Homo sapiens: one gene and its partner. The protein of the gene in region 1 interacts with the protein of each later gene in a pairwise test. Each region holds a gene or a part of one and is shown on either strand. Other genes may lie near its edges.

Region 1 (6,863 bases):
TCTGGTGTTAAAGTGCAGGATCTTGGGACAAAGTGCTTCTACATACAGGGTGCTTTGGTTATGGAGGTTCCCTGCCCATGCTACCAGAGGTTCATGTTGAGAGAAGGGTCTGATCTTGCTCAGGAGGAGGTGGTTGTCTCAGTGGGTTAGAAAGAATCAAGTAAATTCTACCTCCTGGTGTGAAAAAGGTTTCCAAGTTTGTGTAGATCCTGTGATTGCTCTTTCATGTTTAGAGAGAGAAACTGAGTAAAGAGGAAAAATAGAATGATGTTTATATTCTCTACAAGTGTGCTTTCTAATGTGCTAATGTGTTCACGGCTCACAAAATAACAGTTCCTGACACTTGAGAAATACATTTCTTTTCATGACATTTTCTTCCTCACATTATTGCTCCCTGTCGTTAGCCTCAAACCTTACATTCTGTAGCTCAAGTACTTTAACTGGAGAGAGGCTTTAATCCCCTCTCTCCAGTTAGGGAGCCTCCTAAGGAGTCTCCTTGTCTTCCAGGTCTCCATTGCCAATCATTTCACAGAAGGGCAGAGAATCTTCCAAAGCAAAGCTGTTGCTGCCTTATAACATTTACCCCTTCTTTCTTGAAAACAGGCCCCAGGCTACCTTTCCAGCTTGCTTTTTCCCCACCCGAGTCCCTCACGCCCACTGTAACTAATCTGGGCTTTTCCTCCTCTGGGCTTTGGCTCACGCCGGTCCCTATATCTGGAATCCTTTCCTTTTTCATCTTTGGCTGCCTAGATTCTGTCCATTCTTTTTTGTTTTTTTTCTGAGGCACAGTCTCACTCTGTGGCCCAGGCTGGAGTGCAGTGGCACGATCACGGCTCACTGCAGCCTTGACCTCCTGAATTTGAGCGATCCTCCTACCTCAGTCCCTGAGTAGCTGGGATTACAGGTGTGAGCTACTGTGACTAGCTAATTAAATTTTTCTTTTTTTGTGGAGACAAGGTCTCGCTATGTTGCCCAGGCTGGTCTCTAACTCTTGTGATCAAACAATCTTCCCTCCTTGGCCTCCCAAAGTGCTAGGATTACAGGTGTGAGCCACTCTACTGGGCCTATTCTTTAAGGCCCATCTGAAACGTAATCTCCCTTGCCTTTTCTGATTCTCCAACCAGATATCCCTTCCTTGTCCAACACTGGGTATTAGAGTGGGTGTAACTTTTACAAGAGTTGACATTTGGACCTGTACTGCAGATATCTGTGCACCCAAACTGTCAATTCCCATGATCAACTACGTGTTACTGACCTTTGTGTTATAGGTAGCACCTAGAACAGACATTCATATTCATTGGCAATTATGAAAAACAAAAGTCTAAAAGTGCTTCACAATTTTCTGTCAGCTGAAGAACTGGTCAAAGAAATCCAGAGGCTTTTTTTTTTTTTTTTGTAAAGTACAGCTTCTTAATAGGGCACTTGATTTTCTAGGTGTGGACACAACAGTTGATAGACATCTACTAGGTCAAGAAAGGTATGCCTGAATTAGATAAATGACAGACTCAAAAGAGAGGCCAGGAAAAGGCTGAAAAACAATCTGAAGGCATCTGTGGTATCCTTTTGTTTATATCTTGATTTTTAGTTTCGTACAGGGGAACACAGGAAGCTCTGAGGCTTTAAAACTAGAAACTTTGCGATTTAATCAAATGAAAAATTTTGAATGCTGTGCTGCAAATCTGATTAAATAGGGCTAGTAATTCACTTCCAAACAAAATAAACCCCAAACTCAGAAAATCTAGCTCCTTTTAACAAAAAGTCTGGTAATGTTATTTTTCCTAAATTCTAAAGCTTATCAGAGAAGCCTGCCCCCTCACATAAACATTTTTTCATATACCTTTATGAAACCTTCTGAGATAACACTACTACAGAGGTGAATAATGAATTCATAGGCCCTAGCTGTAACTACGTCATTGTTTACTTGGTGACTTTTTTTTTAATCGGGGAGAGGGGTAAAATGGAGATGAGAGAAAATCAGTTTAAACTGTATTCAAATACATTTACACGATTAACACCACCAACTCAAGGAATTTCTTTTTCTTACAGACCTGTAGCACTTGTTGGTAGGAGAACAATGAAATGAACCCATAATTTGAACAAAGGCAACAGGCACCTGCAGCCTTTCAATCACTTAGCAAATATTTCCGCCGAGACAGGGCCGAATTCGGGGATCTGGGCGAGCAGCCGGTGTCACCTTTCTCGGTAAGCTGCAAATCTTGGGAAAACTAGGACCCTTCCCAGGGATCCTGGGCTGGGAGCGGTCTCCGGTTTTTAGACAAATCTCTCCTCCTACCACACGTGACCGAATGGCAATCAGCCGCCAAGAGAGACACCGCAACGCATCAGCCGCGGGATACAAAGGCTCGGCACTGCCGTCGCATCCTCGGGAGGATCGCGGAGCCTCCCGCGCTCGGCGTCTGCGGAGCCTGCGCAGGGAGCAGCTGCGAGGCGCGCCGCTCCCGGGCCCGCAGGGCGGTGCCGCGCTGCGCGGGGAGCAGGAGCGGGGAGCGCGCGCCGCCTGCCCTGAGCGCCTGCCCACCCAGCGCCGCCGGAGCAGGGGCGCCGCGCCGCACCGCACGCAGCCGAGCAGCGCCACAGCCGCCGCCGCCGTCGCAGCCGCAGTCGCCGCAGCTAGGCCCTCGGCCGTCGCAGGGAGCTCCGCAGCGACGTGGACCAAGGTGAGGAAGCCGAGGGCTCCCCCAGACCCTCGGCAGGCCCGAGGCCGGGCTACCCCGTCCCCGCCCAGGCCCAGGCCTTCCCTTTCCTCTCGGCTCCTTCCCCTTCCCACAGCTCCCCTGGGCCTCGCGCCGGCTGCAGGGCGCAGTGAGAGGCACTTACACCACGGCTCTGGAGATCATCCAGGACACCATCTTCACGGGGGCTTGGGCCCCACGTCCGGGGCGGGTGGGCGCAGGGCGCTGCGGACCAGGCCGCCAACGGCAGGCCGCGCGCTTCGCCGGCTCCTCGCGCTCCCCGGGGCCGCGCTGGCGCCCTCAGGAGCCGGGCCCGGTGTGTGCGCGCGGCGGCCTGGGCTGCGCAGAGGTCGGTCCCCCGCCCGTCCCCGCCCGCCCCCGCCCGCCGGCCCGGCAGCCTAGTCCGGACAGCACCCCGCCCCTGCGCTCCGCTGATAGGCGGTGGCGGCGGCGCGTTGGCCCGGGCCAGGGCTGGGGCCAGGCGGCCGGGCTCCAGGGCTGGGCTGGCGGGATCCTAGCCCGCGCTGGACGGCCTCGCTGCCGCGGCCTTGGCCCCTGCGCTCTAACCAACCTTACCCTCCTTAGCTCTTTGGGACGCCCACACTCGCGGCGAGAGTGGGGCAGGAGGCTGAGGAAGGGTACTGGAGGGTAGGGATTGGCAGTGCCTGTGTGAAAAGTGAGATATTCGCAGGAACTCGGTGTCCAATAAAACTCTCGACCAGGCCCTGGTTTTGGAGAGCCAAGACTTTGAGGTGTGCCTGGCCACATCCGGTATCCTCAGTGTTTACGGAGGCCCAGCACCAAAGGCGTCCTTATATTACCACATTTTAAAGGAATCGTCGAGAGGTTCTTGCACAGGCCTCCGTGTGTGCCACGAGTCTCGTGGTGCAATGCAGGGAGGGACAGAGGAGGATTTCATGTTTGCAGTAGTGGGTGCAGTGATACCACTGTTCTGGGCCTCTTAGGGCACCTTTTCATCAGAGCATCTGCAAAGACTGTTTACAGACACGAATCTCCATTATTTCCCTGAGGCCTGCCAGATGTTCAAAGTAAAGGCTGGGTCTAGGATTCCTGACCTGTCTTAAGATTTACAACTATATTACAGCTGTAAGATTTACAACTGTATTTTTTGGAGGTTGGGTTACTGCTTACACCTTGCTGTTCTTGCAAATATCATTTCAAGGGCAGACTTTTAAAACTGTTTTTTTTTTTTTTTTGTGACAGTACCAAATTGAGAAAATGATGTTAAAGTTTAGATATTTTTATTTTTTCCAGTTAAGACGATAGTAAAAGATAATTCTAGTATTCAGATGGTGCGAAGAATAAAAGATGAAATGTAGGCTTGGAGCCTTTAATTAAAGTCCTAGAAAATATGATGGCTTTTGTGACCATACTGTAATTTTGTCTTCTTGTTCCTCAGTTTCCCTGTGATAAAAAGGGGGTAATAATACTGTAGTCTGTCTCTTGCCTTTCAAGGGTGATATGAGGCACTGCTAAATAATATGTTTAGGAAATACTCTGACTTGCATGGAAGACAATCAAAGGACACAACAGATTATCCTAAATTATTTTCAGTTCTCAGTCAATAAATTGGGTAATATTTCATTATTTAAGAAACAAGCTCAGAAGCTACTTTCTACTCTTGGGTTAGGTTCTTTTCGCTTATTAATTCATGTCAAGACTTTTTATTTCAGGAATTTGAGTAATAATTTGCATTTAACTCTGAATCTTTTATTTTTGGCCATTATTCAGCATTATTTGAGGATCAGGTGTGCTGCATAAGCACCAGTTTTTTGGCGAACTCTCTTGTTCAATAAAACTCAAATGAATTTGAATATCATTCAGATCCCTTCATGAAAGGTCCTGAAATAGCTTTACAGCCTTTACTTTTACTACTTTCACCCCCAACTCCTAATGTACCCGTTCCCTACCTCTCTTCTTTCAGCCAACCTGTATTTTCATGCTCAGTGCTTTTGCCCAGATTTCGTTTTTCCCTTAACACTTTGCTCCCCATTCTGTACCTATCAGAACTCTCATTTTTCAGTGGCCTGTGCCATGAAGACATCCTTGGTTTTCCTCAGGGACAATTATTCCTAATTTTGTCTGTGCTCTCATAATTTATTACTTGAATTTCTATTTCTTATCTGTGTCATTCTGCCTCTACCATGTCTAATGTACTGAATGGTAAAATGTTTGAGAACAGACATGGTGTATTAGATTTCTTTGTGTTTTCCAACTATCTAGCCTCAGATAGGGTAAACGTCCAATAAAAATTTGAATAATGTTTGTGAAATACAGTCACTCTTTAGGCATCAGATTTAAAAAATTTCAGCCACGTACATTGGAAGTCTCTTAAAAATGTCTTTCTTGCCTTTTTACTTTGGAGGTCATCATTGTGAATATTAATTATTTCAGCTAATCCTAGTACATTAATGCCTTCAGGGGTTGCTGAAGGCAACCTAGGTAGGATGGCTGGCTGCTCTCTGAAATGTCCCTAGACTGCTGTGCGTTAAGTTTCATTTTGTATGCTTATTATATCTTCTGCCTCTTCCACATTTAGATTACTTTTTGCTGCTTTCTTTCTATTTACCTGGAACAGTGCCTTTTTTCACATCTCAATAGGCCATGGGTTGGAAACCACCTACTATGTGCTATACACGTGTCATTGAGTCATTCTGACAACTTAAAAAGCCATATAGCGTTTATTCCCTTTTGGTACCATGGAAAGTGAGGTTTAGAGAAGTTAACTCAACTGGCGGGTGATCACATAGGTCATTGGTAACAGAACTGGAGATCTAATTCATGCTTCCCAAGCTTGTTTACATTATACTGGGATAGATAGCGGAACTGTGTTTAAGGCGGTGGGTCCAGCTTGGTGTTGCCCTCCAAGGGGAAACTGGAAGGCATTTTTTAGATTGTTGTAATGATTGGAGCTAACAACTTGCATTTGTTGAGTGAAGGCTAGAGAGGTGTGGGACAGTCCTGAACAAAGTGTCCCCATGTCTTGCATGATTTAAGAATATCTGCCTGACTTTCATGTAGTATTTGTAATTATCAAAGCCTGGAACCTCCATCTTGCATCATGATTTTAACTGAGACTGAATTTTAACTGAGTCTGTTTCCACATGCAACGGTTATGTGAATTGAAGGAAGATTGTTTTGTTCACAACTTGACCAAGAATTGTTTACAGTTTTGGAAAATTGTATCACAAACAGCTCTGCATTCATAGATATATTCAGCTACTAGTTACTTCTTTAAGTCTTCTAGTGTAGTTTTGCCCCACGTCGAAATATATGTTATTATAAATCATTTTCATGTCTCTTTTCCACTCTTATTTAGGGTATATGGATTTGTTTGAAATTGTAGGAATATTGTTATTTTGTTTCAGGGTGGTAAAGCAGAAGTTGGAAAATATTTTATGCAAGGGGCACATTGAATCTGATGTGGTTGAGAACTGTTGATCTAAAGTAAGAGTAACTTCATCTGAGAAGAGTCTCTCATGAAAAGTGCCCAGATTTTAGTGGAGGGTGTTTATAATTTCTGTGTATTGGACTGTGTCTCAGATACACAGAAATCTGCCAAATTTATTAGCAGATAGTTGAGATTTGCTAAGAAATAAGTGGCCATTATGCTGGGTGCGGTGGCTCATGCCTGTAATCCCAGCACTTTGGGAGGCCGACAAGGGCAGATCACTTGAGGCCAAGAGTTCGAGGCCATCCTGGCCAATGTGGCAAGACCTCATCTCTACTAAAAATACAAAAATTAGCTGGGCATGATGGTGCACACCTGTAATCCCAGCTACTTGGCAGGCTGAGGCAGGAGAATCACCTGAACCTGGGAGGCGGAGGTTGCACTGAGCTGAGATTGCACCACTGCACTCCAGCTTGGGTGACAGAGTGAGACTCTGTCTCAAAAAAAAAAAAAAAAAAAAAAAAGTGGCCATTAGATAAGTACTTCACTGTATAAGATAAGGTGCTAGGGGCACTGGGAGAAAAGGAAATATAGTACCTTCTGCCTAGAAGCTTTTATAGTGTGGTCTCTTGGAGTGCTTGAAATCATTTCTTATATAGAAGATATGATTTCTTTAAGTACTGAACTTAATTTTGATTTTATACATATATCACTAATATTCATACATTGTGCTATATAAAGCGCATCCTTCATTGTGT
Region 2 (7,028 bases), on another chromosome or scaffold:
TAAAACACATCCCTTCTGAAGCATGCATACCCTTTTTCTGTGGTATTTAAGCCCTGGGCCTTTGGGGTAATGGTGCAGGAATGCACCATCTCCTCTCACTGCTGCCCAACGCATGGCTTCTGTTCCTAAAACCCTGTTAAATGTTTCTTTCTGAGTAACTGGATTTGTCAGTTTTTCTTTAGCCTCTCAGCTTCCTCAGCCTTTCTGGGTAGTTTTGCAAAGACCTGCCTACTGAAGAACAAAAGTTAACACTTCCGCCTCCAAGCTTCAGTCTGAAGACTACAGAGCCTTGAGACAGGAGATTAAGGGGTCTAGAGAAGGGTAAGCAGGCAATGAATGGCAAATATAGTTCCTGAGGAACCTTAGTCACCCAGTAAATCCAGACAGCCACAGGCACAGCCCTTGACTCTCCCAACAGTGTTTTTATCCCCAGACAACATTTCCCATGCAGTACTTGAAAGTTCCACAAATATCTGATTCATATTAATGGGCTTGGCAATTAGGAAGTGGCTGATTATTGAAGATCATCCCCAAAAAATGCCTACGGAACTGCTCTAGGTGAGGCTGGGACTGTCACAGAAGGGAGCCCCTGCCCCACCCCTTTTAACCTACTGTATCTCCCCCCACCCCCACGTCTAACATGACTCTCCCCACAGGATCAAATACCTAAGAGCTGAGATGCCAAGTAAAATACAAGTATTTCCTTGATTTAAAAAGTAGTTTGAAAAAATCTCTCTTACAGCATTGACATGTTCGAACACAAATTTACAGTTAAATTAAAAATAAAGTTTGCACTACAAGTGTTAAAAAAATTCTTCCCTGAATATTATCCCATAACCTTTTACATCTCCAGAAAAACTGTGGAAGGAAGTGAAATACCTTCCTCTTGCAGACTGCTCTTTGTGAGGTGAAGAGGTTAGATGACTTTTTGAGAATGGAAGACAGATCCTGGGTCTTGCGCTTTAGAATCCTGAATATTAAACCATCTAGATCTCTTGAATCATCCTTTATGATAGGCCCCAGATGCCAACAGGATCCAAATATCAACTTCTAGGATAGCACCAACTAGTTATGTCAGGACAAGATTGTGCTACTCAACCTCATTTTCAACATCCATGTGTTGGAATTGATATGAATAGGAAGTATGGCAATGCTCACACCAAAACTATTGTCCTCAGCATGACGGAGGAGGTGCAGCACACTTCATTAGCTTTTTCCTACCTTAACACCAGCTTATATCCTCAAACAGTCATCCAACACACCTGAACAATGCCCTAAGTAAATACGTAGATATGGTGCCTGGCCAGGAAACTTATGTGCTGGAGGTTGGCTGATGTCATCAAAGTTTTCCTATTCCTTCAGGAATTACAAAACTCTAAGACAGGAAATTAAGGGGTTGGGAGAAGGGGAAACAAGCGGTAAATGGAAAATGTAGTTTCTGAGGAAAATTCCTGAGAACTCCCTCTGGAGAGACTGGGGAGTTACCCCTTCTTCTTCTCATTCTATGACTGGGTTTGTAACTGGGAGCTGGACTCAACCCATGCCGCATGAAGGCTGGATCATGCTCGGGAGTATCCCAGCCTCAGTCGAGCCCCTCTCTACCATCACCCCCACATATAAATAAAAACAATTTTCTTCTTTCCCATTTTGAATTGAAATGATTGTCCACTGGAGGATGTAAAAACTTTAACGAATACTAATAATCATTAAAAAATTGGTAACTACCTAAAGAACTTTAAATGATGTGGAAGACTGTATCATGCAAATCATAAAAATAATAATGTTCACAAATAATTTTTAATGACTTGGCAAAATGATCTAAACATAATATCAAAATCCTAAAGGTAGTCCACAAGACTATAAAGAAATCTAATCTCAAATTATTTTAGAAATGCAACTAAACAAAAGACTAGAAGAAAATATGACCAAATATTAATATTACAGATGGGTTTTATGGGTAACTGAACATATATCATTTTTCAATCAAAATAAGCAACAACATGAAATAATATATGGAATAGATGTAGTCATATATAGTTAGCATTCTATACATTTTTTGTTTTATACACACATACAACACTAATAAAATAAACAGTCATTTCTAAAACAAGTTAAAATTGGGCCAAGCATGGTGGCTCATGCCTCTAATCCCAGCAATTTGGGAGGCCAAGGCAGGCAGATCACTTGAGGTCAGGAGTTCAAGACCAACCCGGACAACATGGCAAAACCCCGTCTCTACTAAAAATACAAAAATTAGCTGGGCGTGGTGGCACATGCCTATAATTCCAGCTATTTCGGAGGCTGAGGCATGAGAATTCCTTGAACTTGGGAGGCAGAGGTTGCAGCGAGCCAAAGTCGTGCCACTGCACTCTAGCCTGGGTGACAGAGTAAGACTTTCTCTCAAAAAAAAAAATAAATAAATACAATAAGTTAAAATAATGACAGCTTATGGACACATGGTTCTTCAAAGTTTTTTAAAACTCTTTCAAATACATTATTTATTATTTTATCATCATAGTAATATATCAGACACACCAGATGAAGTATAATTATTTTTAGCAAACAAATGAAAAGAAAAAGAATTCAAATCAACAGGTATCAGGATATAAATAAAATATAAATCAGTGTTTAAGTAAGTTGAAACATTAAGAAACCTCTTCAAGATCCAATGAGCAGAGTTTAAAGTAAAACACTGGTTTCTATATTTCTTCTGGAGCTTATAAAACAACAAAATACAACAACAACAGAAAACAAAAACACAAGAATCAGGCATATCTCCCACCCATACAATATATTCCAAGCCGGTCTTAAATTCACATTATAAATAATGAAATGGCTATGAGTACATCTTCCATTTCAGTGTAAGTCACAAGCCTTAAGTAAGTTCTTAAAATGTGTTATTTATTCACATCTAAATCCTCTTACCTGCAGCAAGACATAAGCCTATGATGATCACTGTAATGACACCTAGGAAAATGGAGGTGATGATCATCCACAGTTTGCATCTTCCAACCACATTCTTATTACAGGAGCTCCAGGGGCTTTCCTTGTTAGCCTAGAAAGGCAGAGGGAGATTGTGAGGCAGTCATTGTGTTGCAACAGACAGTTCTGAATACCTAGGATGTGCCAGAGACACAGAAATGAAGGCAGCAAGACCCTGACCTTAGGGCAACACTCTACTGAATCAAGTTTTCAAAAAGAGAGATCAGAGGCAGAACAGAACCTCATCAAGAAGTTAGCAAGAAAATCCTCTGGGGGCTCTGAAGTGGGGAGGATAGGCAGGATTTTGAAAGATGGATTTTTGAAGGCATTCCAAACCCAGGAAAGAGCATCCAAAGTGTGGATTCGTAATGGAACCGGCCAGCAGACTAGCCTGCCGACTGGAATGTGGGTTTCAGAGGCAAATAATGAAAGTTAAGATTAGAGAGAGTGAAAGGCTGGGAGCACACTCAGAGGGTGTTGATAGCTGTCCCAGAATAGATTGGACTTAATTGGGTGTGCACTGGAAACTTGAAGGTTTTGAAACACCAGAGCCGAGTTGAAAATTAAGGGAAAATCATGTGTGGTTTAGAGTGGAAACACCAAGAAAAAGCTACAAGGCTACTGCTGTGGCCTAGGTTCTATGTAAAAAAGGGTTGGGAAGGGAAATGAAAGGACAGCTGCAAGAGACAACAGGAAATAAGCTGCAAAGCTGGAGTGAGAAGGCTGGAGTGAGGCAGAGGAGGGGTCAATGAAAACAAGTACAACTGCTATGGTTTATTGAGCACCAGCGTCATTTCACTTAACCCTAACAGCCCTTCAGGGTGTGCACTAGTCCATTTCAAAGACGCAATTCAGAGAGATGAGCCAGAACCAATCCCTGCTGTGTGTCTCCACAAAGCTCTCCAACTTTCCCTTTTGTCCACATCACTGTGCAGAGCTCCGGTTTATGAGGGTGTCACAGAGGGGCCCCCACCTTACCCTATATGGTCCCATGACTCTTCTCCTACTTCCCACTCCACCATTAGATAATTCTTTCATGGAGACCATGGGAAACAACAGAATACAATGGGGAAAAAATGTGTCTGTATCTAACACACTTGGATTCCAAACCAAGATATACCACTTAAAGGCAAGGTGGCTTTAAGCAAGCTACTGAAACTCATAGGCCCCAAAGTCCTCAGCTTTAAAATATATAAATAGTAAATTAGCTCACAGGACTGTTGCAAAAACTAGAGATAATGGACACAAAGCATCTGCTAAACAATTATTGGGAGTTCGGCCAAAGGGTGCAACTGCGCCTCAGTCATTCCTCAGCGTTCACCATCCCACAAAGCAGCAGCCGGCACTCGAGGAGACTCGCTCCTGACCGACACCTGGCCACCTGGCCTGCTTTCTCTCCCATTCTTTTTTTTTTTTTTCTTTTTTTCTTGAGATGGAGTCTCGCTCTGTCGCCCAGGCTGGAGTGCAGCAGCACGATCTCCGCTCACTGCAAGCTCCGCCTCCCGGGTTCACGCCATTCTCCTGCCTCAGCCTCCCGAGTAGCTGGGACTACAGGCGCCCGCCACCACGCCCGGCTAATTTTTTGTATATTTAGTAGAGACGGGGTTTCACTGTGTTAGCCAGGATGGTCTCGATCTCCTGACCTCGTGATCCTCCCGCCTCAACCTCCCAAAGTGCTGGGATTACAGGCATGAGCCACCGCGACTGGCCTTCTCTGCCATTCTTATTTTGGTGCTGGCCATCAGAAAACGAATCGGTCAGTCCACACTTGGACTGTATTTCCAACCTTCTCAATTAGAGGTGCCCAAGCCTGGCTGCACATCAGAATCACTGGGTAAGGATTTTAACTGACACATACCTAGGCCCCACCTGCACCTAGTGGACCAGATTGTAAGGGAGGTGGGAGGAGGCCATGGCAGACCTCTGGTCTGAGGCCTCCCACCTTTCGGGAGTTAGGTCAAATCTCCCCTTTGGTGGAAGCCTCCCTCCCCACCTGCCCTTAGTGAGATCTTCCAATACCTGAGCTGTCCACATAGCCCATCTGCTGTTGCCACTGACTGCCCTGTCCGGTTTCAGGTTCAAAAACAAACAGAGCCTGGCCTTATCTTCCTGCGTAAACTGAAACCACATAGAGGAGGGGTGCTCTTAAACTGCCCTGTTCTTATATTCCACACCTGTGCCTTCTACAAGTAATATACATTTAACGATTGTGGGCTGTTTAGTTGTAGAGGCCTCCCAGAAATTTTAAGAATGGACTTTGAGAAAATCTAGATGAGGGGACAAATGTTGGATTTCCCAAGTGCACTTTACACTGACTCTGAGGCCTAGCCTGTCAGAGGTGCGAGGGGAGCACTTAAAGGCCCTAGGGATATCTTGACAGAGGAAATCCCTCTTGAGTTAAGTGCATTTCTGGAATCCAGGGATAGGGTCACCTCTCATCCCCACTCAAAACCTGCAGAACTGCTTCAAAGCCAGGGGAAGCCACACGGGAAAAAGACATCCCAGTACAAAGAATCTTCAGTTTCTCAGGGGACAGAAACATCTCCCCATTTACAGAGCTCCTGAGGCCAAAGCCCTGGTGCTATTTTCAGCCCTCATAAAAGGCAGCTGGGACCCATAAAGATTAGCACAAAAGGAAATATCTAGTTTCAAATGAGCCATAGAATGAGTGTCAATGCACCTCCTTGGCCTCTCATGCCTTTATTTATGCTGTCCCTTAGAGATCACAAATTAGGACTCTGGTGTGTTGAAAAAAACCACTAATTACTCTATGACTTCCTGGAGGAACTCAGCTTAAAATTTTACAGCCGTCATCTATAGGAAATGCCTCTTCCTGTAGCCTAGTGCCCTCACTGACCTGTCCTCAGCTCTAAGAGGAAGACCGCTGAGCGCTATCCCTTACATGATTAATATTCACAGACTTTATGTCATTATAAAATGGTCTGTCACAACAAAAAATAAAAATAAAAAAATAGCCAGACATGACGGTTTACACCTGTGGTCCCAGATACTGAGGAGTCTGAGGTGGGAGGATCGCTTGAGCCCAAGAGGTCAAGGCTGCAGTGAGCTATGAGCATACTACTGCACTCCAGCCTGGGTGGCAGGAGTGAGACTCTCTCAAATGAAAAAAAAAAAAAAAAAAAAAGCACATGAAACTGTCAGACACTCCCAGCCAAACAATAGACTGTACAGTGCTTCTCAGCTGTCTGCCCATTAGAATCAGCTGAGGAATTAGTATCTTTTAGAAGTAACGCCCGGAGATTCCAATGTGCCCTGAGGGTGAAGAGCCTGTGACACAGTAGGTGTGTGCTACCTGTGCCATCTGAGTCTTGCCTCAAAACTGGATCATGAAGACACACTGCCTTCTTCACTGGCTTCATCTCTCTTGCCCAAATTCTAGATCGTGAGGAGAGGCCACACATAGATTCTTCTGCAAGGTGCCTTCCGGAGATATTTGCAACTGCATCTTACATTCTATTATTGTTTTACATGGCTTAATAATTTACATTTGCAATCTGCATCTTATATTCTGTGATCATATTATATGGCTCAAGAATTTTCAGGGCTTTCCTATGAACATTCCCCGGATATTTACATCCGTCTTTAGATAAAGGTCTAAATACATGACACAGGATCCTGCAACAGTGGCAGGATACCTATCTCTTACATCTAAAAAGCCTTTCTTCTTTTTGACTCAATCAGAAGCAGATATTATATAGATCAGGGAAAATTTTCTTACAGGTAGGAAACTCTTCATAATACTCATTGTGGGATTTAATCCACTTGTTTGATCCAAGCACAAAAGAGCCAGTTGATTCTTGTCCTAAACTGAACAACACGTGGCAATGGAGCTAATTTTTAGCTAGCTCATTGAAATAAATCTTTTTTTTTTTTTTTTTTTTTGAGACGAAGTTTCACTCTTGTTGCCCAGGCTGGAGTGCAGTGGCGTGATCTGGGCTCACCACGACCTCCGCCTCCCAGGTTCAAGCGAGTCTCCTGCCTCAGCCTTCCTGAGTAGCTAGGATTACAGGCATGCGCCACCACAC

The links. The genes of interacting proteins can lie anywhere in the genome.
Region 2: the proteins of REEP3 (region 1) and C3orf52 interact in binary tests that used the Homo sapiens proteins (3 or more experiments, as listed by UniProt).

What each region holds. Positions count from the first base shown.
Region 1 is NC_000010.11:63,517,553-63,524,415, reverse strand, and holds the start of REEP3 (receptor expression-enhancing protein 3), read right to left. Parts: upstream 3,016-6,863; 5' UTR 2,871-3,015; coding exon 2,839-2,870; intron 2,679-2,838; exon of another isoform or gene 2,526-2,678; intron 1-2,525. UniProt on the Homo sapiens protein: Microtubule-binding protein required to ensure proper cell division and nuclear envelope reassembly by sequestering the endoplasmic reticulum away from chromosomes during mitosis.
Region 2 is NC_000003.12:112,089,387-112,096,414, reverse strand, and holds part of C3orf52 (TPA-induced transmembrane protein), read right to left. Parts: intron 3,056-7,028; coding exon 2,926-3,055; intron 1-2,925. UniProt on the Homo sapiens protein: Has a role in LIPH-mediated synthesis of 2-acyl lysophosphatidic acid (LPA). LPA is a bioactive lipid mediator involved in different biological processes, and necessary to promote hair formation and growth.